Homo sapiens: one gene and its partners. The protein of the gene in region 1 purifies or fractionates together with the protein of each later gene. This does not show direct contact. Each region holds a gene or a part of one and is shown in the gene's direction. Other genes may lie near its edges.

What was found.
Region 2: the proteins of ETFB (region 1) and PLCH1 purify together in Homo sapiens (affinity purification with mass spectrometry; 2 studies listed by BioGRID and IntAct, with this or other methods). This does not show direct contact.
Region 3: the proteins of ETFB (region 1) and AKAP11 purify together in Homo sapiens (affinity purification with mass spectrometry; 2 studies listed by BioGRID and IntAct, with this or other methods). This does not show direct contact.

Annotation. Positions count from the first base shown.
Region 1 is NC_000019.10:51,349,381-51,356,480, reverse strand, and holds part of ETFB (electron transfer flavoprotein subunit beta), read left to right. Parts: intron 1-1,638; exon of another isoform or gene 1,639-1,842; coding exon of another isoform or gene 1,843-2,172; coding exon 2,173-2,331; intron 2,332-3,190; coding exon 3,191-3,349; intron 3,350-6,089; coding exon 6,090-6,152; intron 6,153-7,100. UniProt on the Homo sapiens protein: Heterodimeric electron transfer flavoprotein that accepts electrons from several mitochondrial dehydrogenases, including acyl-CoA dehydrogenases, glutaryl-CoA and sarcosine dehydrogenase.
Region 2 is NC_000003.12:155,742,003-155,750,043, reverse strand, and holds the start of PLCH1 (1-phosphatidylinositol 4,5-bisphosphate phosphodiesterase eta-1), read left to right. Parts: upstream 1-4,972; 5' UTR 4,973-5,204; intron 5,205-8,041. UniProt on the Homo sapiens protein: The production of the second messenger molecules diacylglycerol (DAG) and inositol 1,4,5-trisphosphate (IP3) is mediated by calcium-activated phosphatidylinositol-specific phospholipase C enzymes.
Region 3 is NC_000013.11:42,267,220-42,275,189, forward strand, and holds the start of AKAP11 (A-kinase anchor protein 11), read left to right. Parts: upstream 1-4,932; 5' UTR 4,933-5,009; exon of another isoform or gene 5,010-5,542; intron 5,543-7,970. UniProt on the Homo sapiens protein: Binds to type II regulatory subunits of protein kinase A and anchors/targets them.

The DNA of each region.
Region 1 (7,100 bases):
GGTGTTTTCCAAATTAGGTTGTGACCATGTGTGATCATGACATCCAGGCAGAGGGCTGGCATTTTTCCGAAAAAGGGTAGAAAATGTCAGAGTATGGTGTGTGTGTAGGCAGGGTCAGTATTGGTCACTGACCCTTACACTGCAGTGGCATTTGTGAAATAGGTCAGGGTCACTGGTCACGTTGTCTAAGGTGTTATCCGAGCTCGTTTCACAACCAAGAGAATTAAAGAGCATAGACCACCCAAAAGGTGAGGTTGGAGCGAAAGTTTAATAAGCAAAAGAAGAAAGCTCTCCACAGAGGAGAGGGAAGCCCAAGCGGGTTGCCATTTTTACAGTTGATTCCAAAAGCTTTTTTTTTAAAAAATTATTTATTTATTTATTTTTTATTATTATACTTTAAGTTTTAGGATACATGTGCACAACGTACAGGTTTGTTACATGTGTTTATATGTGCCATGTTGGTGTGCTGCACCCAGTAACTCGTCCTTTAGCATTAGGTATATCTCCTAATGCTATCCCTCCCCCCTCCCCCCACCCCACGACAGTCCCCGGTGTGTGATGTTCCCCTTCCTGTGTCCATGTGTTCTCATTGTTCAATTCCCACCTATGAGTGAGAACATGCGTTGTTTGGTTTTCTGTCCTTGCGATAGTTTGCTGAGAATGATGGTTTCCAGCTTCATCCATGTCCCTACAAAGGACATGAACTCATCATTGTTTATGGCTGCATAGTATTCCATGGTGTATATGTGCCACATTTTCTTAATCCAGTCTATCATTGTTGGACATTTGGGTTGGTTCCAAGTCTTTACTATTGTGAATAGTGCCGCAATAAACATATGTGTGCATGTGTCTTTATAGCAGCATGATTTATAATCCTTTGGGTATATACCCAGTAATAGGATGGCTGGGTCAAATGGTATTTCTAGTTCTAGATCCCTGAGGAATCACCACACCGACTTCCACAATGGTTGAACTAGTTTACAGTCCCACCAACAGTGTAAAAGTGTTCCTTTTTCTCCACATCCTCTCCAGCACCTGTTCTTTCCTGACTTTTTAATGATCGCCGTTCTAACTGGTGTGAGACGGTATCTCATTGTGATTTTGATTTGCATTTCTCTGATGGCCAGTGATGATGAGCATTTTTCATGTGTTTTTTGGCTGCATAAATGTCTTCTTTTGAGAAGTGTCTATTCATATCCTTCGCCCACTTTTTGATGGGGTTGTTTGTTTTTTTCTTGTACATTTGTTTGAGTTCATTGTAGATTCTGGATATTAGCCATTTGTCAGATGAGTAGGCTGCAAAAATTTTCTCCCATTCTGTAGGTTGCCTGTTCACTCTGATGGTTAAACTAAAGAGCTTCTGCACAGCAAAAGACACCAAAAGCTTTTATAAGAAACTCCTTTCATCTCTGTAGCTGTTTGAGTATCTTATCTGTAAAGCTATCTGCATAACTCTCCGTTATCTATGTAGTTGTGGGTACGTCTTTAGGCAAGCACAAAGCTCCGCTTCTCTTGTTTCTGTAACCGTGGGTTTGTTTTAGGTAAGCTCCGCCCCTCCCCGTGCAAGTTCCCACAGAGACCACCATGTACGTGCCTGAAAAGGGGAGGGAACTTTTCCTGGGAGCCTGTCAGTCACGCAAAGAACAAAAGGCTTCTGTGCTGGGCAGCTTGAGTTTTCCCCAGGCTGCTCTATTGTTGCCTGTAGCTGTGATTTTTCAGGCAGGCTGCTCCTCTGAGGACCACCCTTAACTGTCTACCTAACTGGTTTTTCCTTTTCTTCTCCTCATTTGTATTTATGTATCAGTGTATTATGTATTTATATACACTTGGAGATACAGTAAAATGTACCTCTCACTGTGGGTTACCATAAATACTGTAAATTTGAGAAACACTCTTTCAGGCCTGAGAGGAGCAGTGACAACAGTAGGGATGATCAAGTCAGATGTCCCTGGTACCCAGGAATGGCTGGATGAGAGAAGGAGACAGGGTGACCTGCCCCTGCCTACAAACTCTAACCCAGTTCTGTCCCTGGAGCTGTGTGACCCCGGACAAGGCCCTGCCCCTTTCCAGGCTGTCGTTGTCCTCATCCAGCCTGGGAGAGGGTTGGCGCTGAGGCCCCCACCTTCTTGCCTGTTTCCTCCTGACCCCACCCCTTCCCCTCCTGCTGGGCAGATCCGAGTGAAGCCTGACAGGACCGGTGTGGTCACGGATGGTGTGAAGCACTCCATGAACCCCTTCTGTGAGATCGCGGTGGAGGAGGCTGTGCGGCTCAAGGAGAAGAAGCTGGTGAAGGAGGTCATCGCCGTCAGCTGTGGGCCTGCACAGTGCCAGGTGATGAAGGTCTTGGGGAGGGGGCTGGACTCCTGGGTCTGACGGAGGAGGGGCTGGGACCTGGACTCCTGGGTCTGAGGGAGGAGGAGGCTGGAAGTCTGGACCCCTGGGTCTGAGGGAGGATGGGCTGATAGCCTGGATTCCTGGGTCTGAGGAAGAAGGGGATGGGGGCCTGGACTCCTGGGTCTGAGGAAGGAGGGGCTGGGGGCCTGGACTCTTGGGTCTGAGGAAGGAGGGGATGGGGCCCTGGACTCCTGGGTCTGAGGAAGAAGGGGATGGGGGCCTGGATTCCTGGGTCTGAGGAAGGAGGGGATGGGGCCCTGGACTCCTGGGTCTGAGGAAGGAGGGGCTGGGACCTGGACTCCTGGGTCTGAGGGAGGAGGAGGCTGGAAGTCTGGACCCCTGGGTCTGAGGGAGGATGGGCTGATAGCCTGGATTCCTGGGTCTGAGGAAGGAGGGGATGGGGGCCTGGACTCCTGGGTCTGAAGAAGGAGGGGATGGGGGCCCGGACTCCTGGGTCTGAGGAAGGAGGGGATGGGGGCCCGGACTCCTGGGTCTGAGGAAGGAGGGGATGGGGGCCCGGACTCCTGGGTCTGAGGAAGGAGGGGATGGGGGCCCGGACTCCTGGGTCTGAGGAAGGAGGGGATGGGGGCCCGGACTCCTGGGTCTGAGGAAGGAGGGGATGGGGGCCCGGACTCCTGGGTCTGAGGAAGGAGGGGATGGGGGCCTGGACTCCTGGGTCTGAGGAAGGAGGGGATGGGGCCCTGGACTCCTGGGTCTGAGGAAGGAGGGGCTGCGAGCCAGACTCCTAGGTCCCCCTGAGGATAGCAGCCAAGTCAAGCCCCTCTGTCCTTGGCAGGAGACGATTCGTACCGCCCTGGCCATGGGTGCAGACCGAGGTATCCACGTGGAGGTGCCCCCAGCAGAAGCAGAACGCTTGGGTCCCCTGCAGGTGGCTCGGGTCCTGGCCAAGCTGGCAGAGAAGGAGAAGGTGGACCTGGTGCTGCTGGGCAAACAGGTAGCTGTGGTCAGCCCTCCCTGTGCCCCCTTGCTCATCCCTGCTCGGGAGGAGGGTGGTGGAGATACGGGGTGAGACAGCAGCTGGCCAGGCCCAGGGCATTCACCACTCCAGGCTGAGCAGCTTGGGACTTTGCTGACCCTTCTGACAGAGAGTTTGAGCAGGGAGGACAGAGTCCCTCTGGGTGTTAGAAAGATCCTCTTGGGCCAGGCACGGTGGTTTACGCCTGTAATCTCAGCACTTTGGGAGGCCGAGGCCAGTGGATCACTTGAGGTCGAGAGTTTGAGATTAGCGTGGCCAACATGGTGAAACCCCATCTCTTCTAAAAATATAAAAATTAGCCGGGTGTGGTATCACCTGCCTGTAATCCCAGCTACTTGGGAGGCTGAGGCATGAGAATCACTGGAACCTGGGAGGCGGAGGTTGCAGTGATACAAGATCGCACCACTGCACTCCAGGCACCACTGCACTCCTGCCTGGGAGCAGAGCGAGACTCTGTCTCAAAAAGAAAAAAAGAAGAAAGATCCTTTTGGGTGAGTTTAGAGGCTGGGAGGCCGAGGTGATGGTCACATGGGGGAGAATGAGGCCTCAGCCAAAGGTGACAGGACAGAGCAGAGACATGATGTGGCAGGAGAGACTGGGCTTAGCATGGGGAGGGAGGGCAGGGAGGAGGCAAGGACAGTGCCTGGGTCTGCCTTGGTAACACAGGTAGGAAACCCAGGAAGAACAGGAGGTTAGAGGAGGATCCTACAAGGGGAGTGTGAAGAGCCCAGGAGACATCGATGCAGGTTCAGGAGACAGGCCTGGGCTTGAAACAAAGACTTGAGAATTTTGGAGGGCACTGGGGAGCTATGGGAGTTCTATGAGCAGAAGAGGGGTGGGATCAGCACTAGGTGCAGAAAGAGCCCCCCTGGGCTTTGAGAATGGACTGGAATGGGAAATTGGAGGCCAGGAGTTAGGGAAGGAGGTTAGGGCTGGGTGAGGACCCGACCAGAACCTTCCCTGCCACACTGGTGCTCCCCACTGAGATAGGGGTACATGGAGCTCATCTGTTCCCCCAGGAGACCCTCGGGCACCACCTCTGCTCAGGGGTAGCTCATCTCATTTGAGGGCAAACCTCATGGCCTCAACCAGGGAAGGGGCAGAAGAGGGACGTCAGAAGAGCCACAGGCAGATGGGAGTGAGAAGAGGCAGGGAATTAGGGATGAGGCTGAGAAGGAAGGCCAAAGACTGCAAGGTATGTCAAGCAGAGCACGGAGACAGCAGAGCACAGCAGGCTCAGGTAGAGCTGGGGCCCCCGGAGAGAGATGGGGATCCCAGGGCCAGGTCAGTTCTGGGACAAAGAGGAGGCTGATGGGTCCAGGTAGGTCACTGGGTGTCCTGCCCAGCCCTGAGAAAGTCAGAAGAAAACAGAGAGAGATTATCAACAGCAGGGGCATCAGAGTACAGATCAGTCAACTGTGGCCGAAGGGCCTACCCGGAGAACAGGCCAAAAAGGCAGGGCCTGGGTGGGGCTGCAGAGGCCGAGGTGCTGGAAGCATGGCCTTTGCAGCCCCCTGCATTTGCTGGTCGTTCTCAGACTCCGATGTCCTACCTGTCCTGGGCCAGGGACAGTTCCTGGGGCCAGGGCCTCCAGCTGGGGAAATGCCGGATGAACTGGTCAGGATGCTGTTTGTTCTAGGAAGCAGATTCACAACTCAAACTGGCTTAAGCCAGAAAGCGAATTTATTATCTCACGTAAATCAGGGGCTTCAGGCACAGCTTGATCCAGGGTCACATATGAGCTGTAGGCTCCCCTCTACCTTGTCTTCACTGTCTGCATCTCCAGGCTCAGATCCCACCAGCCCAGTGACCCCAGCAGAAAGAAAGGAGCATCTTTCCCAAGGGCCCCAGCAAACTCCCAGGGCTGACTCTTCTTTGGTGCAGCTTGAGTCATGTGCCCCTCCCTGAACCAATCACTGGGCTGGGGCTAGAATGTCCTTGCTGGCCCAGACCCTGTTCATGCAGCTGCCCAGGGGCCACATAGGGTGGGACTCCTGAGAGGCTTTATACAGAGGGCAGAGACTTGACGACAGGGATGCCAGGTGGCCCCACATGTCCCTGGACAAGTGGCTGCTTATCTCTGGGCCCAAGTGAGGGGATCGTTCTAGACCAAAAGTCAGTGAACTATGGCCCAGAGCGACCTCTGATTTGTAAATAAAGCTTTATTGGAACATCACCACATACATTCATTTACATATTATTTATGGCTGCCTGTGTGCTACAACAGCAGCGCTGAGTCACCGTGACAGAGACCGTATGACCTGCAGAGCCTGAGATATTTACTACATCTGTTCCACCATAGAAAAGGTTTGCCAACCCGACTGGCTGCGGTGACTCATGCCTGTAATCCCAGAGCTTTGGGGGATCATCTGAGGTCAGCAGTTCAAGACCAGCCTGGCCAACATGTTGAAACCCTGTCTCTACTGAAAATACAAAAATTAGCTGGGCGTGGTGTTGGGTGCCTGTAATCCCAGCTACTCAGGAGGCTGAGGCAGGAGAATTGCTTGAACCCAAGAGGCGGAGGTTGCAGTGAGCCAAGATTGTACCATTGCACTCCAGCCTGGGTGACAGAGCAAGACTCCGTCTCAAAAAGAAAAAAAAGAAAGAAAAAGTTTGCCAACCCCTGTTCTAGACAGAGGCCTGAATGGTCCATGAGCTCCACTGATTGTCATACAGTCTTCTGTCTCTCCCCATTCAGGCCATCGATGATGACTGTAACCAGACAGGGCAGATGACAGCTGGATTTCTTGACTGGCCACAGGTGAGACTGGAGTGGGGAGCACCTGCTGAGGGCCAGGCCCTCATCCCTCAAACTTCATTTCTGCCTCAAGGCCTTTGCATTTGCTGTTCTCTCCTCCTGGAACACTGTTCCCTCGGATTGCCTCATGGCTTTCTTGTTCCCCTCCTTGAGGTCTCTGCTGAGGTATCACCTCTTCAAAGGGGCCTTCCTTGCCATCCTACGTGAAATACTCATGCCCACCCGCTCAACTCTAGGTTCCCCAGTCCCCATCTCTGCCAGTCCAATAGAAATGCAGGCTGGGGCCAGGCATGGTGAGTCATGCCTGTAATCCCAGCACTTTGGGAGGCCGAGGCAGGTGGATTACTTGAGGTCAGGAGGAGTTTGAGACCAGCCTGGTCAACATGTTGAAACCTCGTCTCCACTAAAAATTTAAAAATTAGCTGGGTGTGGTGGCGTGCGCCTGTAGTCTCAGCTACTCAGGGGGCTGAGGGAGAATTGCTTGAACTTGGGAGGCGGAGGTTACAGTGAGGCAAGATCGCACGCCACTGCACTCCAGCCTGGCAACAGAGGGAGGCTCCGTCTCAAAAAAAGAAAAAAGAAATGCAGGCTTGGCACAGTGGCTCACACCTGTAGTCCTAGCACTTTGGGAGGCCACGGTGGGAGGATTACTTGAGCCCAGGAGTTCGAGACCAGCCTTGGCAACATAGTTAGACCCCATCTCTACCAAAAAAGAAAAGTTAGCTGGGTGTGATGGCACATGCCTGTAGTACCAGCCTCAGGAGGCTGAGGTGGGAGGATCCCTTGAGTTCAGGAGGTCAAGACTGCAGTGAGCTGTGATCATACCACTGTACTCCAGCCTAGGTGAAAGAGGGAAACCCTGTCTCAAAAGAAAAAAAAAAAAAGAAGCAAGGCACATAGACAAATTTAAAATTTTTCACAGCTACATAAAAAAGTAAAAAGAAACAGACA
Region 2 (8,041 bases), on another chromosome or scaffold:
TACTACTCCTCTCTCCTCAGTCTCCCATGATGGATTTAGGAAATTCCTCTTCTGATCTACTTTGTAGATTAAGTCATATACATATGAATCAGTATAAAGGTGTTTCTTTCTTTGGCAGCAGATTTAAGAGAGGGCAGCCTAGGGAACATCTATTCTTTTTTTTTTTTTTGAGACGGAGTCTCGCTCTGTCACCCAGGCTGGAGTGCAGTGGCGCGATCTTGGCTCACTGCAACCTCTGCCTCCCGGGTTCAAGCAATTCTCTGCCACAGCCTCCCGAGTAGCTGGGATTACAGGTGCCTGCCACCATGCTTGGCTAATTTTTGTATTTTTAGTAGAGACGGGGTTTTACCATATTAGCCAGGCTGGTCTCGAACTCCTGACCTCATGATCCACCCGCCTCAGCCTCCCAGAGTGCTGGTATTACAGGTGTGAGCCACCGTGCCCAGCCCATATCTATTCTTTTTATTTGCCAGAATCTCTTCCTGCCTTCACTTGGTAGGACCAGCCCCTTTCATCTTGGGAACAAATCCTCCCTGGTTCCAAGCAGTTCTGATGGGCTGCTACTTATAATACCCCGCCTTCCTGGCCATAAGGGTGTGTGTATAATCAGGATCTGGCCACACATATACTCTACTTATTGTTGTCCACAGTAATTGACCTATGGATGGACACATGACCTAAGTCAGGTCAGTTCGAATCCTTTCCTACCATCTTATTTACAGATGGTAAAAGCAAAAAGGCCTCTCTAGCTGAGACGATTGAAACCTGGAGCTGTCTCTAGTCATGCTCTCCCCACCCCCAGCTTGTACAGAAAGCTCATATGGAATAGGAGAGAATAGGATCAAAACACTGAGAAAAGCAGAGACAGGGAAATAGTAGGAGCAAAGGTGAAAGTGTGAGAGTGACAAAAATTCCTTGCTTGGCCAAACAAACATTAGTCATGCTTCTGAGCCTTCTCCTGGGCCCATATGTGCGTTTTCTTGTAAAACTCAGTTTTAGAAAAGAGTTCTGCCAAGTCAGTTTAGCAAGAACCCCCACTCTCCATATCTGATCATTCTCAATATCTGATCAGATCCCTCATCCTCCACTATTGCCCAGGTCATGTCTGATCTCCCTGGCCTGTGTTCAGCAAGAATCCAGTTATGTCGGGTTAGCTAGAGTTCCTCATATTCCTGATGTTTCCTCTTAGTGATTTTTCATCCAGCAACCCCATCTGTTCTTTGTCTATAAATTCCAAGCTGCCTATGCTGTATTCTGCATGAGCTCCTTGCAGTAGTCCCTGTGCCGATTTCGATCGTGCTGGATAAAGCCTTCCTTACCATGCTTTAACACTGACTAATTTTTTCTTTAACAAGAGAAATGCTGATTCTGAATTGCTAGACTCCCACCGTTTCTGAAGTCCTTATCCTTCCCCCTATCTTAAAGTGGGAGTCAATACATCAGCTTTTTTTACTCAAGCTGGTTTGATAAGGGGTTTTGTTATTTGTACCTAAAAGCCGTGACCAATTTGTAGAGTAGGGCCATAAAGACAGGTACTACGCTCTACTTCAGGAGTGCTATCTATATTCCAGCTAAGGCTTACCACCTAGAGCAGTGCCTGGTACATGGCAAGTACTAAAGAAATATGTGTTGAAAGAGGAGTGCCTCTTCCTTGATACGCTTTTTTGGTCAATGGTTTTCTTAACTTGGTGCATTGATTAAAATAGGGAACATTTATCTCCTTTCCTCTCTTGCTCGTGGATATAACTCAAGATGGTTGCTGTTTAAATTTGAACACCTTAAATAAATGGCTCTTTTTGCAACTGGAAGCACAATTTTTGCACAGCTAGAAAAATCTTTTTCCAACACAGAAATTCCCAGTGCAGTTTTCTAAGAAACCCCCTACGATACGCAGCACAGCAGGCTCACCACAAGGCACATCAATCATTTTACTGTGTATCAGGCACCTCTTACAGGATTTTCTGTGATCCTGGTGTCAGTGCACATTCTGTATCAAGGCAGAGATGATATGTAGAAATCTGGCAGCTATTTAGAAGGGAGGCTGGGCAGTGGTGTGCCAGTATAATTAATGAGAGTCATCGCTTAGGAAATGAAGAGGGTGGGGGTTGGGAAGGATGCCTTTCACCATTCAATGGCATTTAAGAAAAATTGATGCTTTCTTAGCACTTTTAATGCTGGGAGGACATTAAGTCAAAGAATCACAGCAAAAGATTTTTGTAACTACTGTACAGATGGATGTCCCTGTGCTTGAAGAGGCAGGGCTAATTCAACCCCAGACTTTTCAGCCAGGCGGATTTCAACCTTGTATTGAGCTACCAGCAGGAGTTCTTTATACTTGGAAAAGTGGTAAATCCTTACTAAAAGATCATAGCTTGCATGACCAAGAGATCCTCTAGAAAAGGTACTTTACTACCATGTAGGATGTTTGTCTTACCTGCCCAAAGAAGTTTTAATGAAGATCTCATTTTCTCCAGTTCCCCTTTAACCAGTGAAAGAGGAGGGTATTATTTGTTTTGTTTTTCTATTTATTCTTTGGTAACCATGGAAGAGTTTGTGTAACCTAGAGAGGCTGCTTATTACCCACTGTCTAATCCCTTTGTTATTATTCCATACTCTGATTGTCACAAGCAGGAAAAATAGTTCTGTCCTGCTTCTAAAAACTTAGCAATGTAACACATTTTCTTGTTTTTAGTGATTTTCTCCAATTAATTAATTAATTGTTTTAGTGATTTTTCTCAGATAAATAATGTTAAAACGACTTGGAGAGAAAAGCTACATTAAAAGATTATGGATGTATAAATGTCCTAAACATTTAAGAACATGCATAATTATGATTCATACCAACTTCAGAATTATTACCTTTGGGAAGGGGTGGGGGTAACGAGTCAGGAGTTGGGGTTTAGCTATATCTGTAATGCTTTATTTAAAAAAGAAGGGCTGGGGGGAGCAGGAGTATTACATGGTATATATCCTGTTTTTGGTAGGTTTGAAATATCACACAATTTAAAAATTTAAAAGTTTACAAAATTATGGGAGTTGATTAAAACTATCAAAATAAAGAATGCATAGCAAACAAGTGCTCTTATTATGAACTTTGTGTCTGAGTTTATTTCAACATGTGCATCTGCATTTTTTCAGACTCAAGAAAGACAAACACCGGAGGTTAGGGGGTGAACTGCTGCTGTTGAGGGATTATCTTGGTGGTTTTTTTTTTTTTTTTTTTTTTTTTGGCTTTTCTATTCACCATGGAGGTTACCAGCAAAACAAATCTCCAACAAGCTTGTTTACAAAATATAAAGCAGTTTGGAGGCAGAGGGTTAATGACTTAATTTCTTATAAATTGAGGCTTGTGTATGGGCATGCAAAAAAACAAAAACAAAAACAAGTAAATTTGGGGAGGTTTCTTTCTATAGAGGCAAAGGACCTTACCTACATTTTTTCCAAATTGATTTCTTCCTGGTACTATTGGCAGGAAGAAATTCAAGTGGGTATTCTGGTGGCTTTTTTCTTTTTTCTGAGAGTCTAGGATTGTTTTCAGGACAAAGTTTCTTCTTGCCCATGGTGCTTTGCTGTGACATTGTAATTGCCTCTGTTGAATTGAATAATACAAATGGGTTGTTTCTATGGTATCGGCTAAGTGGGATGAAAAGGTGAAACCCTAGATCTTGCGCTGAGAGGTCACAGTGCTACCACCCTCCACACTGTCTGTCAAAGAGAACAGGCAGCCAAGGCCCTGAGCTCCAATCTCAGGCACTCATTTGTAACTTACTCGTTTGTAACTTCCTGGGCAAATTCACGCATGAAAAAAGAAAATGACTTTAGTTTATGTTGTCACTAAGCCCAGAAAATCCCTGCCAACCCCATGCTGCCAGCTTTCCTAGGACATTCTTATTGGAGGATTATTTTAAACTGAAAGGTGAGTGAAGAGCTGCGTCCCCACTCCTTCCCAGCCAGGCTTTGAACTAACAATAGGGCAGGTTGAATGAAGGCTGATAAATGTAAATCCTGGAATCCAGAAGCCGGATCACACCGCGGCCGTCTAGGCCAGCGGCGGTTCCAGCATCCGCCCCAAGCTGGTCACTCATCCTTTCAGTGCATTCAGTAGATTTCATCGTTTCATCAACACTTGAGTGCCTGCTTCGTGCAAGCTTTCCTCTGCCACCGCCGCCTTCTTACTCCCGGCAGGTTGCCCGCTTGAGTCAACCAGCCACTAAACGGATCTAAGTGAATAAGTGGCCTGTTAATGCCAAGGAGTAGCATTTCCAAATGAAGAGACTGGGGGTAAATAAAAGCAAAGTGTTACCATTTACACGCTCTCAATTTTAGTTGCACTTCACTCAGAGTAGATCTCTTTAATTTGCGGCATCGACAGATGCTATATTCTTAGAAATTTTTTTTTTTTAAAGGAGGTAAGACGGGCGTTTGAGAACACTTTTTACTTTGGTGCAAGTTGCACGCAGTTCCCATTCACTCAGAGTAGATCTCTTTAATTTGCGGCATCGACAGATGCTATATTCTTAGAAATTTTTTTTTTTTAAAGGAGGTAAGACGGACGTTTGAGAACACTTTTCACTTTGGTGCAAGTTGCACGCAGTTCCCATTCCCTGCGCCCTTCACTTCCAACTTTGTTTCTCCAACTCCTTTACCCCCCACCACCGAGGCCCTCTGGCTACAGCCCCGAGGGGTTACCCTGGGTTTCGAAACTTTTGAAACTTGCGGGGGAGTAAAAGTACTTCATTCCCAGTGCTTCTGGCCCTTGCCAAGCGGGGAGCCCCGCAGGAGAGTGTAAGCCAAGGGTTCCAGGTGCAGCCTTGGGGTTCCACGTGCAGCCCTAGGGTTCCGTACACCCATCCCGCCCGGGCCAGAGGAGGCAGCAGGCGCTCCAGTCCGCTCTCCGCAACTCCAGTTCCTGATTTCCTCGGAAGCTGCGGGGCCGAGAGGGAGGGGGGCTCCTGTGTGAGCGTGAGGATTTGAATGAGAAAGCAGGTTGTGGCGGCGGCGCCCTGCTCTTCCCCGCTCGTCTGGGGCTTCTGCTGGCTAGTGGGGAGAAGTGCTCTTCTAGGGGGGCTTTTCTGGCCCTTGGCAGGGGTTTGGAGTTGGAGTCACAGGGGCCAATAACTCATCACCCCAGCACTTCGGAGGTGGCTCCTTGTGCCACGGACTCCGAGGAGTCCTTCAGCTACTGAACACTCAAAGCTGAGGAGGTCAGTGCTTTCGGGGGAAGAAGGGGCCCAGGAGAGAAGGGGGTGTGCAGGAAAAAGAGAACTGGTACGCCAGTCCGATGAGCGAGTGAGCAGGTGGCCCAAGTTCCTTTCTCGGCAGCCACAGCCGGCACACGCCTGTTTAGGACTGTGAGTGCTGTGCGTGGGGATCCCCTAAGGCCCCGTGCGGGGAACTGGCCACGGCCGCTCTTCAGGGTCCCATAATTCAGAAGGATGAGGGTGGGTGTGTGTGTCCGCGAAATAATGTAACTCTCGGGTCCCTTGCGGTGGTGGTGGGTGGCGTTTCGCCCGGTGGAAGGTCCAGCCTCGCTGCAGGATGCTTCACCCTCACGCGGGGTCCCGGGACCCTCTCTCTGACCGCCAGACGCCGCCAGGAGAGCAGGTCCGCGTTTCCCAGCAAGGGGAGTGCAGCGTCCGTTACACTTGGGGAGTCTCACAGCTTTTCCTGCGCCCGGTGACCCTGCTCAGGACCTCTTAGAGACTAGGTGTGCTCAGCGCGAGGAGGATATACTCCATTGCCCTTTCCTGGGAAGAACCAAGAGCGCCCGAGCGGCGCGGGGTGGTGGAGGCAAACCCCGGCCCCGCGGCGGCACGCTCTGCGCCTGCGCGGCGTTTCCTTGGCGACTGAGCTGCGGGTCCGAGACGCCACCCCGCGAGCCCCTAAACCCAGTTCCCTGTTGAGCGTCTGCGACGCCCTCTCCCCTCCTTCCCGAGGCTTTTTCTATTTGTTTCCTTCTGCGAATCAATTTGTGATCACATTTTGACGTTGAGAGTTCAGCATTAAAGCAATAACCAACTAAATTAAAAAAAAAAACCCAACTTTTCCCTTCCCTTGTTACCGTTTTGATCACGGACAGAAGAAAATGGTGAGAGATTAGTTATTAGGGCAGCAATTGAAATCCCCCTCTGTCCCGAAAAGGGGAGACGAATAAAACATTTACTTCCTGGTAAGGAGTTAGAAAATTCAGTGAAGTGATTGTTCTCGAGCGTTACAAGAACAAATCTGTGCCTCCTAACCCAGGTGAAGAGCAGAGCTTGTACAACCCAGCAGCACCCATGTCCTGTTTATTGGCATGTTTATGACAAGGAGATGCTCTGCAAAAGGGACCAGAGTATAATGCCAATGAAAAGAAACAAAGGATTTCCCAGAAGAGGCGGTAGTTTTTTTCAGTTGCCTCAGCGTTTTGGTCACCTTTGGGGTTAAAGTCTTCTGCAGAGAATGCTTCAAGAAGCCTTAACAGAAGCCAGTTTTCTCAAGCTGGTCATTTTCTTTTTCTTTTTTTCTTTTTTGAGACGGAGTCTGGCTCTGTCGCCCAGGCTGGAGTGCAGTGGTGCGATCTCGGCTCACTGCAACCTCCGCCTCCTGGGTTCAAGCTATTCTCTTGCCTCAGCCTCCCGAGTATCTGGGATTACAGGCTCCCGCCACCACGCCCAGCTATTTTTTGTATTTTTAGTAGAGACGGGGTTTCACCATATTGGCCAGGCTGGTCTGGAACTCCTGACCTCAGGTGATCCACCCACCTCTGCCTCCCAAAGTGTGGGGATCACAGGCGTGAGCCACCGCGCCCAGCAGATGAGAATCATTTTCATTTTCATAAAATTGTGAATCTTGACAGCCCTATCCCCTCTTTTAAAATCCGTTTGTTTACATACAGCCTAGCATTTGGCAAAAGTACACATCTTAAGGGGTATGTAGAAGGAGCGGTAGCTTCTTGCTTATTTTTCTTAAACTGCATCAATATTTGGCAGCATGATTGGTACCTAGTTGCTATTTAACATTGGTTAGAATTAACATAAATGCTAATACAAATTTAAAATGGAGTTATTCTTCTTGGGATAAAGTGTGGCATAAAATACCTTGGATGAAGTAATACGTGAGTACTGTCTCGCTACATACCAGTTTCAAGCAATTTGTTTTCAAGAATAGCAAGTGTTTATTTGTGGTAGATGTTTTAAGATAATATCCTCCCACCATCAGCAAATGAAATCAAACATACCACTTTTCAAATGATTAGCGAGTAACATGCTGTTAAAGTTGTCTCCCATCTCATTTGTCATAAATTCTTAACATTGTGCAATCCATCTAGCTCAAATGTTTAAAAATAAGTCCAACTGAGTTTTTCCCCTTTTCTCATGTTTAGCAAAATAGAAAAACTCTTAATTTTCAGGTTCAGATACTTTGTGACCCTATTTGGTGGCTTGTAACTGGCTCCAATTCCCTAATTCTCAGTGACATGTGTTTCTGCTGGTTCCAGGAGGTAAACTGCAGTTTTAACAGATCATGGGATAATGAGACTGGGAGTACCTGGGGGAGGCTGGGGAGAGGCAATGGGAAGGAGACAAAGAGAGGGAAGGTTGATGGGCAGAGCGAGGATTTATAGTGGCACCAGATTTGCAATAAAATCTGTTTAAAGTTATTGCTTCCGTTTGATATATTTTCCCACATCATCAACTTCAATTAAATTTATTTTAAAAATCAGTCTTTCAGATATAGGGCTAGTATTATAAACATAGAATATGATAAAAGTGCTCCTTGTTAGGGTGCCATAATGTAAAATACTGTGAAAATTCTTAACGAAATGTTTTTTACTTAATTTATTCACTTAGTCAACAAATGTTTATTGAGAACGTATTATATATAAGGCAAGATGAATAAATCCAGATTTCTGTTCTGAATGAACTAAGAGCTGTGAGTCCTGAAATAATTCTAATACCACTTCAGACGTTCAGAGTGAAGATACTACCTTTGGTACTCTTAAGGAGAACGATTGATTTGGTGCTAATCACTCAGACTTGCAGATTCAGAAACAAATGCTGAA
Region 3 (7,970 bases), on another chromosome or scaffold:
CTCCCTGCTGCAACATCCCAAGCATGGGACATGCCTTGACATTCATTTCCCTTAACATAGCACAGATTTGGCTTATAGCATTTATCAGGACTTTACTGAGGACTCCTGACAATACAAATTAAAGAGAATAAAGAATAGTCTGGTAAGACACCCTCCTTCCCCGCTTCTCTTTTTTTGAATAGTTATTGAGTACCTACTATGTGCCTTAGGAACTCCTAAGCAAAAACAGAAACAGCCCTTGCTCATGGATCTCACAGTTCAGTGGAGGAGGGAGACAGACATTAACTAGGTAACCACACAAATAAAAATTGTTATAAGTTGATAAATGCGTTGAAGAAAAAGTAGGGAGTCCTAAGTAAAGGGGATTTACTTAGTCTGGGGAGTTAGGACGAAAGTTCCTGAGGAAGTGACAGTAGAGTTGAAAGGTGAAGGATTCTTGGGCATTCAGCTGTTAACAGGGATGGACAGAGAAAGAATATTGGATCCTGAAGAAACAGCCTGTGGAAGGTGATGAGGCAGGCAGGGTCTGGTCCTATTTTGAGGAACTGAAAAGGGGACAGTCTGAAAGGGAGAATGATATGAAAGCAAAGGAGAAAAGCAGATTATGAGGAAAACCATGAGAAGCCACTGAAGGATTGTAAGCAGGGGAATGGCATGGTCAGATGCAGTAGAAATGGCAGCCCTCTGGAGATAGAGTGCACATACTTCAACCAGCAGGCAAAAAAGACAAATCCTGGAAGCAAAGGAACGGTGCTAGGAGGAGAAATATGAACTCTGTAAATGGGATAAATAGAACGTCTTCTATTTTTTAGAGTATTAAAAAGAATCAGCAACATCCACACAAAATTTGTATAGGAATATTCAAAGCAGTATTATTCATAATAGCCAAAAAGTAGAAACAACTGAATTGTCTGTCAACTGATAAGTTGGCCAATAAAACTGTGCTATATACATAGAATGGAACTGTTATTCGGCAATAAAAAATAAATGAAGTACTGATACACGCTTCAACATGGATGATCCTTTAACACATGCTAAATGAACGAAGTGAGACCCAAGAGACCATGTATTGTATGACTCCATTTATATGAACTGTCCAGAATAGGCAAGTCTTTTTTATTTTTTATTTTATTTTTATTATACTTTAAGTTCTAAGGTACATGTGCACAACATGTTACAGAGGTATACATGTGCCATGTTGGTTTGCTGCACCCATCAACTTGTCATTTACATTAGGTATTTCTCCTAATGCTATCCCTCCCCCAGCCCCCCAACCCCCTACAGGCCCCGGTGTGCGATGTTCCCCGCCTTGTGTCCTGTGTCCATGTGTTCTCATTGTTCAACTCCCATCTATGAGTGAGAACATGCGGTGTTTGGTTTTCTGTCCTTGTGATAGTTTGCTTAGAATGATGGTTTCCACCTTCAGAATAGGCAAGTCTTTATAGACATAAAGTTGATTGGCTGCTACTGAGTATGTGAGTTTCTTTTAGGGAGGAACAAAACTTCTAAAATTAGATTTTGATGACAGTTGCACAACTGTAAATCTACCAGAAGCACTGAATTGTATGGTAAATGGATTACATCTCAGTAAAACTGTTAAAAAACACAGTTTTAAAAAGAATCCAGGAACTGGGGACACAGCAGAACTGGATCTCAATCCTAATTTTTTCTCACTTTGTATTAATGTACTGCAAATAATTGTAGCTAGCACAAGAGAGCACAATGACTGTCTTGCTAAGGTGAGTTGGGAGGATTTATTTCGGGCTCTGTTAATACATGTTCGATTGGGAGAGTTGGGCCCAGAGTTCATCTAAATTAGTAGTACCAAGCAGCTGTTTCAGTTAATCATTATGAGGGCTGTAAACACTCAAAAAATACTCAATTAACATTTTAAAAGAATGGTCCTACTTTGTTAAAATAGTACTTTTTCTCTTTTTGGCGTTTTTCCTTTTAAAAAGTAGCCCTATGTATCTTGAAATCTTGCTTTCGTTAAAATTAAGGTGTTAGCTTAACTTTAGGATATTGCCTCAGACCTTTTAAAAAATGTATTTGCTATCTAGTTCTTAAACTCTGATTAGGAACACATGAATCATTATTTAATACTACACAGGTTCAAAATAGCTTAAGAGAGATGGAATTCGAGGTTGAGCAGGTGGCGGTGTTTCCGTTTTCACACTCTGAGAAGGCCAAGGTTTCTTAGGGAAGCATTCCTGGTATCTGTATCAACCGTTTTCAGAGTTATTCAGCTGGTGTGTGTGTGTCTAATTTCATTTGGGTTGAGCCGCTGACTCTGTTAGGTTTTCATAAAAAATCATTTCATTTCCCTTTCCAGCTTCCGTCCTACTGGTATGTGCATGTTAAAGTGTAATTCAGGCTTAACTACTTTAGGTGTAGGCTAGTTACATTGCTTTGTTTTATGTATGAGGAAGCTGAGACTCAGTGGTGATAAGGAACCTTGATTTGGTTGTATCACTAATGACAGAGCTTCGAGTTGGAACTCATCTCCTGATTCGTTTCTTTTGGTGAAACATCCTCTTGATTTCTGAGCTTTCAACCTCTATCTTTTCAAATCTTACACTAAAGAATAAGTATCTGCGTAGAATTTCATTTTCTGTTCCCAGAATTGACTTTAAGAATAGACAGAAGAGGTGGTTGTCAGTGTAGCATAATGGAGGGAAAAAAATTAAAGATGGGCCCTTCCTTTTCAGCCATTTGTTTTCCCCCAGGTAACAAAAGAAAATCCTCCATTTTATTTTTCCTAGTAATTAGGAGAAATCCACATGTTTCAACAAAGGCAGAAACAGCATGAGGACTCTGACCTAATGGATTTTAGAAATGTTGAGATCATAGGAAATTAAATTAAATTTCATGACTGTCTCTCACCTGGCCTATAAATCTCCTAATCTCCCTTACTTCTGCTTTGGCCTCTTTAAGACCCATTCTTTTCAAAGACGAGACTTTTTTTTTTTAAAAAAAAGTAAACTCTGGGTGTCTCTCCCCTATTAAAAACTCTGTAATACCTTATATTGCGTTTAGAATAAACTTTCAATTCCTTTCTTGGCTAACAAAGCCTTACAGGATCTGGCCCATGCTAGTTTCTGACAGAGCAAGAGCATCACCATCTTGGACAAGCACCGCCATTTTAAGTTCCCCTTGATTAAAAACCGCCTAAATCCAGCCCCAGAAACATCAGCCTAATGGCTAATGTCAGCATGACCATAAACCACAAATAACACTTCTGACCAGAAACTTTCCAACCCTGAGATAAACCCCACTCTGATCAGAAATATGCCTCCCCTCCAACCAGAGACATTACACCCCTGACAATAAAACTCTCCTCCACCCAGAAACATTCCAAGTCTACAATATGCTCTCCCTCCCTAAACCACTAAATACCTTTAGTCTGTAAGAGAGAACACTCCTGACCGAAATCGGCCAGAAGCCCCTCTCAGGTTTATTCTCCAAAATAAACCTGTCTCTGTTAAGCTGCTTTTTGTGTTTCTTTCTTTAACTCTTACAGTTTCCATCTCCAGGCTCAAGAAAGTTTACTTTCTCATTTCTTCTTCCCTCAAATGCACTAGAATAGATCCTTACTTAGGGCCTTTGAATTAGTGTTATCCTTTTCCTGGAATGCTCTATGCTCTGATTTTTGCGTCTGTTATTCAAATCGCTGCTAAAATATCTCCTCCTTAAAAGGGCATCCCCTTTACTAGCCACTCAGTCACCATCACCATCACGTCACTTATTGTAACTTCTTTGCATACAGCTTAAAACCAACAGATTTTTTTTCTTTTCACCCTCAGATAAGTTCCCTAGAATCTACACTACTTGTCTTCATCATTGTTCAATCAACAGCCTAGAGTAGTGTTTGTTGAATGAAGAAATGAACAAACGAATGCACCCTTTCTTCCGTGACCCTCTCCTCTGAACAGGGCAAAACTTAACTCATAACGAGGATACACTCAAAAATGTCTTTCTTATTGCCAGGTGTTTCCACTCTTGAGGAACAGATGCCCTTTAGGAGACAGGGCAATTTGACTGGACTGGCCCTTCCGATTTTAGGTGAAAATAATCACCATAACAGCTTTTCATCTCTGGCTAGGCTTCCCAGTGACCAAAGCTTTACTTTCCGATTTCCATACCACGTAAAGACATCAGGGTGAGCACTAGGGCCCTGAGAACCCTGGAAGCTACTTCTTGGCTGGGATAGGGCTGGTTGCCCGGTGCGCTGTGAGTGGTCCTCCCCGGAGATGCTGGGAGAAGGGGCGGAGCCATCAGAAAGGATGAGCCTTCCTTGGGCCTTCGGATCTGGTGGGGCTGCCACTTTGGGAAGGGCCCCGGGCTTCGGAAGAAAGCAAAACTAGCCTTGTGGCGAAGAAGGAGCCCAGCTGGCCCCAGGCTGTTAAGACTAAGGGGTCGAGGGAAAAGAGGCAGAGCCTGAAACCAAATCTGCGGAGCAAGCCAAGGCCTGGGGACTTGCCAGAGGGAAGGGTTAAGCCGTTTCCAAGGCAACGGACCAGGAAGCGCGCAAGACGTCCGCCGCAGGTTCGTAGGTCGCCCTCGAATTTAAAGCTCCCAAGGCTGAGTGGGTCCCGGCCAATGGAGAGGCCCCCTTTAAGTCATGTGACCAGCGGGGCTGCCCCGCGGGCTGCTCCGCGGGCTGCACTGGAGCACGTGGGAAGGCTTTTTTTCCTGTTCCTTCTTTCCCTTTTTAAACGCCCACCCACTTTTGCGCGGGCTCGGCCGCGGAATTTTTCTCGCGAGAGGCGCGCTGCCCTCTCGCGAGAGAGAGTGGGAGGCGTGGAGAGTAGGCGGTGTTGCGGGCCGGAGCTGCGGCGGCGGCGGCGGCGGCGGAAGCCGAGGGGTGGGCAGGGCGGGGGCGGGCCGCGGGGCTGGGAGGGGGAGGGCTGGGGGTCAGCGCGGGAGGGGGCCAGCTTGCTTGCCCGGCTCGCTCACGGGTCGTTGAGGCCGGTGACATGTCTGTGAGCTGCGGAGGCTGCGGCCCCCAGGTGAGCCGGGCGCCGACGTGCTCGCCGCGGAGGCTGCGTTTAGATGGGGTGGCGGCGGGTGTGCGGCCGGCATGGATGGAGCGGCCCGGCTCCGGCGCTCCAGCCCCTCCGCCTGCCGCTGGTCCCCCTTCTGGCTTCGGGGCCGCCCGAGAGCTGCGCCTTCGCATGGCGGAGGGAGGAGGGCGGGAGGAGCGCGGCCGAAGGAGGAAACTCACCGCACCGGGCCCAGAGTAGAGGGAGGTGCTGGGTCTCGAGACGCGTCTTCCTGGGGTCCCAAGTGTGGCGGTGGAGCTGCCGCCCCTTTTAATGACAGGCTGTTTCCATCCCCGGGGTGGTCTTCAGAGACGGCCCCCCGGGTGCGTGGTGCGCGTGCTTAGTGTGTGTTCGTGGTGTGCGCACAGGAACATTTGCAGCGGTTGGGAGGACGTTGCACTTTGTTCCCGAACAGCATCCTTCACTGTCAGACCCCCGGAGCCTTGGAAGCAGGCGCTGCTCAGATCTTGTAAACGGAAGGCGTCAAGGGGCTCCTCAGAGTATTGATATTTGGATTTGCTGTCAAATACTCTCCTAGGCTGTTAATGGCTTAAGGCTGGCCATAAAGTACCCCGAATGGATTGAGTATACTGCTGTTAATCCAGGCATCTAAGCTGCTTTATAAAAAATATGTAGATGTAACCGAAGTATTAAAAAGTGACAATGACAGTAAAAGCTAACATTTTTTCTCTTCCCCATATTACCAGCTTTCATTTTTTTTCTCTGCTTTGTCTGTCTTCTAAAACCATATAAAGTTGGATGTGGTTTAGCTTTAGATGTTAAGGAGTTTCATGGTGAGAAAGACTGCTGAGATACATACCTAATAGCTTTAGTACAAACTGGAGTTAATTCCTGTTCTCTTTTCAGCTTTTCAATCGCTTGCAAAATGCTCGTTTTGCTTAGCTGCTTCCCACTGTTTTAGAAATGTCATGTCGATTGTTATTTTGTTATGTCTGAAAATACTCAAAATATGGAGTACTAAGAAAAAATGGGGTATCAGTAATGCACAGATATATTTTTTTTAATGTCATCATTTTAGGATGGCAGCCCAGTGCCTGGCATGATTGGTGTCAGTTAAAATAGTGCAATTGAATGATTTTTTTTTTTTTTGAAAAACACATTTACTTTTTCAAACGGTACCCTGATTATTCATTTTTTCTTGTCGTTGTTCCTCCTGACAAAACTGACCCAGGGGTGGACAGTGAATGTCACTATTGTAGCTGTAACAGTAATTTATGAAAGGTCAAAGAATGTAAGGAAATCAGGGAAGAAGTGGGTTCCCAAGCTGAGCTAGAGACTAATGTATGTACCCACATAACTGCAGTATCGACAATATTGATAAGGGCCTAGCAGTGGACTCCTAGGCCAGTGATATTTTGCAGTTGTTGAGGATATGGGAAGTTGCCTAAGACATGGAACCATAGTGAGAAATTCTCTAGCCTTCTCTAGCCCCCTGAACTCCAGGGATAAGTCTAGAAGCTGAAGAAGTCCTCTTTTGCCTTTAGAGGCTGGAAAAAATACGGTACTTTTAATTTTTTTATTTTTTAATTTTAGGAACTTACTGTCTGGAAAAGGAACTCAAACCAATTTGGACAATATATTAAAGGCCGTTTTAAGAGAAAATGCCAGTTGTAAATAGGTAGAGGAATTCTGTCTATACGTGACAAAAATGTGAAAGACTTAGAAAATATCTCTTTGTGAATGGGCAGAGGAGACCAGTGTTGATTAGAAAAAATTCCTTCTTACTCCATCTTAGCAAACTAATTTTCAGAAGTAGAAAAATAAATTTTTTGGCTGGTCTTCATAACCTTTTGGCAAGGGTTTCAAACTTGTAGGGCGTGTGGTGTTTGGTTTTTCAAAAGTAATTGAAGTAACTTTGGATAGGGTAACTGATTTTGTTTTTTTTCCTGTCTTGTGGTCTGCATTTTATTAATCAACTACCTGGAAGGATTGAAGGGTGAGGACAGGTCGAGAAAAGCTTTAAGTTAAGCCTGGGCATGAGTTAAGGGTCAATGAGCTGGTAATATGGGGAAGAGAAAGAAAAATGCTTTATCAGTTTAAAAACAGCCTGGAAAGATCCAAGTGTCTCGATTCTCCCAGTCATCCTTACATATAAAAGTTTATTAAAAAAATACTTCTGGGCCAGGCTTGGTGCCTTACACTTGTAATCCCAGGACTTTAGGAGGCTGAGGCGGGTGGATCACTTGAGACCAGGAGTTCAAGACCAGCCTGGCCAACATGGAAAAACCCTGTCTTTACTAAAAAATAAAAAATTAGCCACGTGTTATGGCACATGCCTGTAATCCCATCTAGTCGAGAGGCTGAGGCACAAGAATCGCTTGAGCCTGAGAGATGGGAGATTGCAGTGAGCCGAGATCGTGCCACTGCACTCCACCCTGGGCGACTGAGTGAGACTCTGCCTCAAAAAACAACAACAAAAAACTTCTGGAGTAAAGGCATTTGAAATTTGTAGATTAGAGACTGGACATGGTAAAAGGAGAAAAGTTATCATTTTTAGAATAATCTGAGAATGTTTCTTGGGAAATAAATGGGGTAGAGGCCTGGAACAGAGAGGATGTTACTTGACTGAAAATGAGGTATATTGTAAAGAGTTTCGGTTTGGGAGTCAGGTCTATTAATTAAATGAGCCTCATTTTCTTCATACCCACCTCAAAAAGTTAGTGCGAAGCACATAGTAGCTGCTTACTCAGTGTTTTTATTTTTACCTCCCGTAATGGTTTGAGGATTCTTTGATTGCAAGGAAGAAAAAGCCAATTTAATTAGCCTACTTAAAAAAAAAGCATTTGTCATACAGTGCTGCTGAAGTCCATTGCATGATTCCAATTCAGCGTTTTGGGAACCAGAAAGTCTTCAGGCAGTTACTCTTCCAGTTTTTCTCTGGAAGCACATGGTCTTATGTCTCTGCTA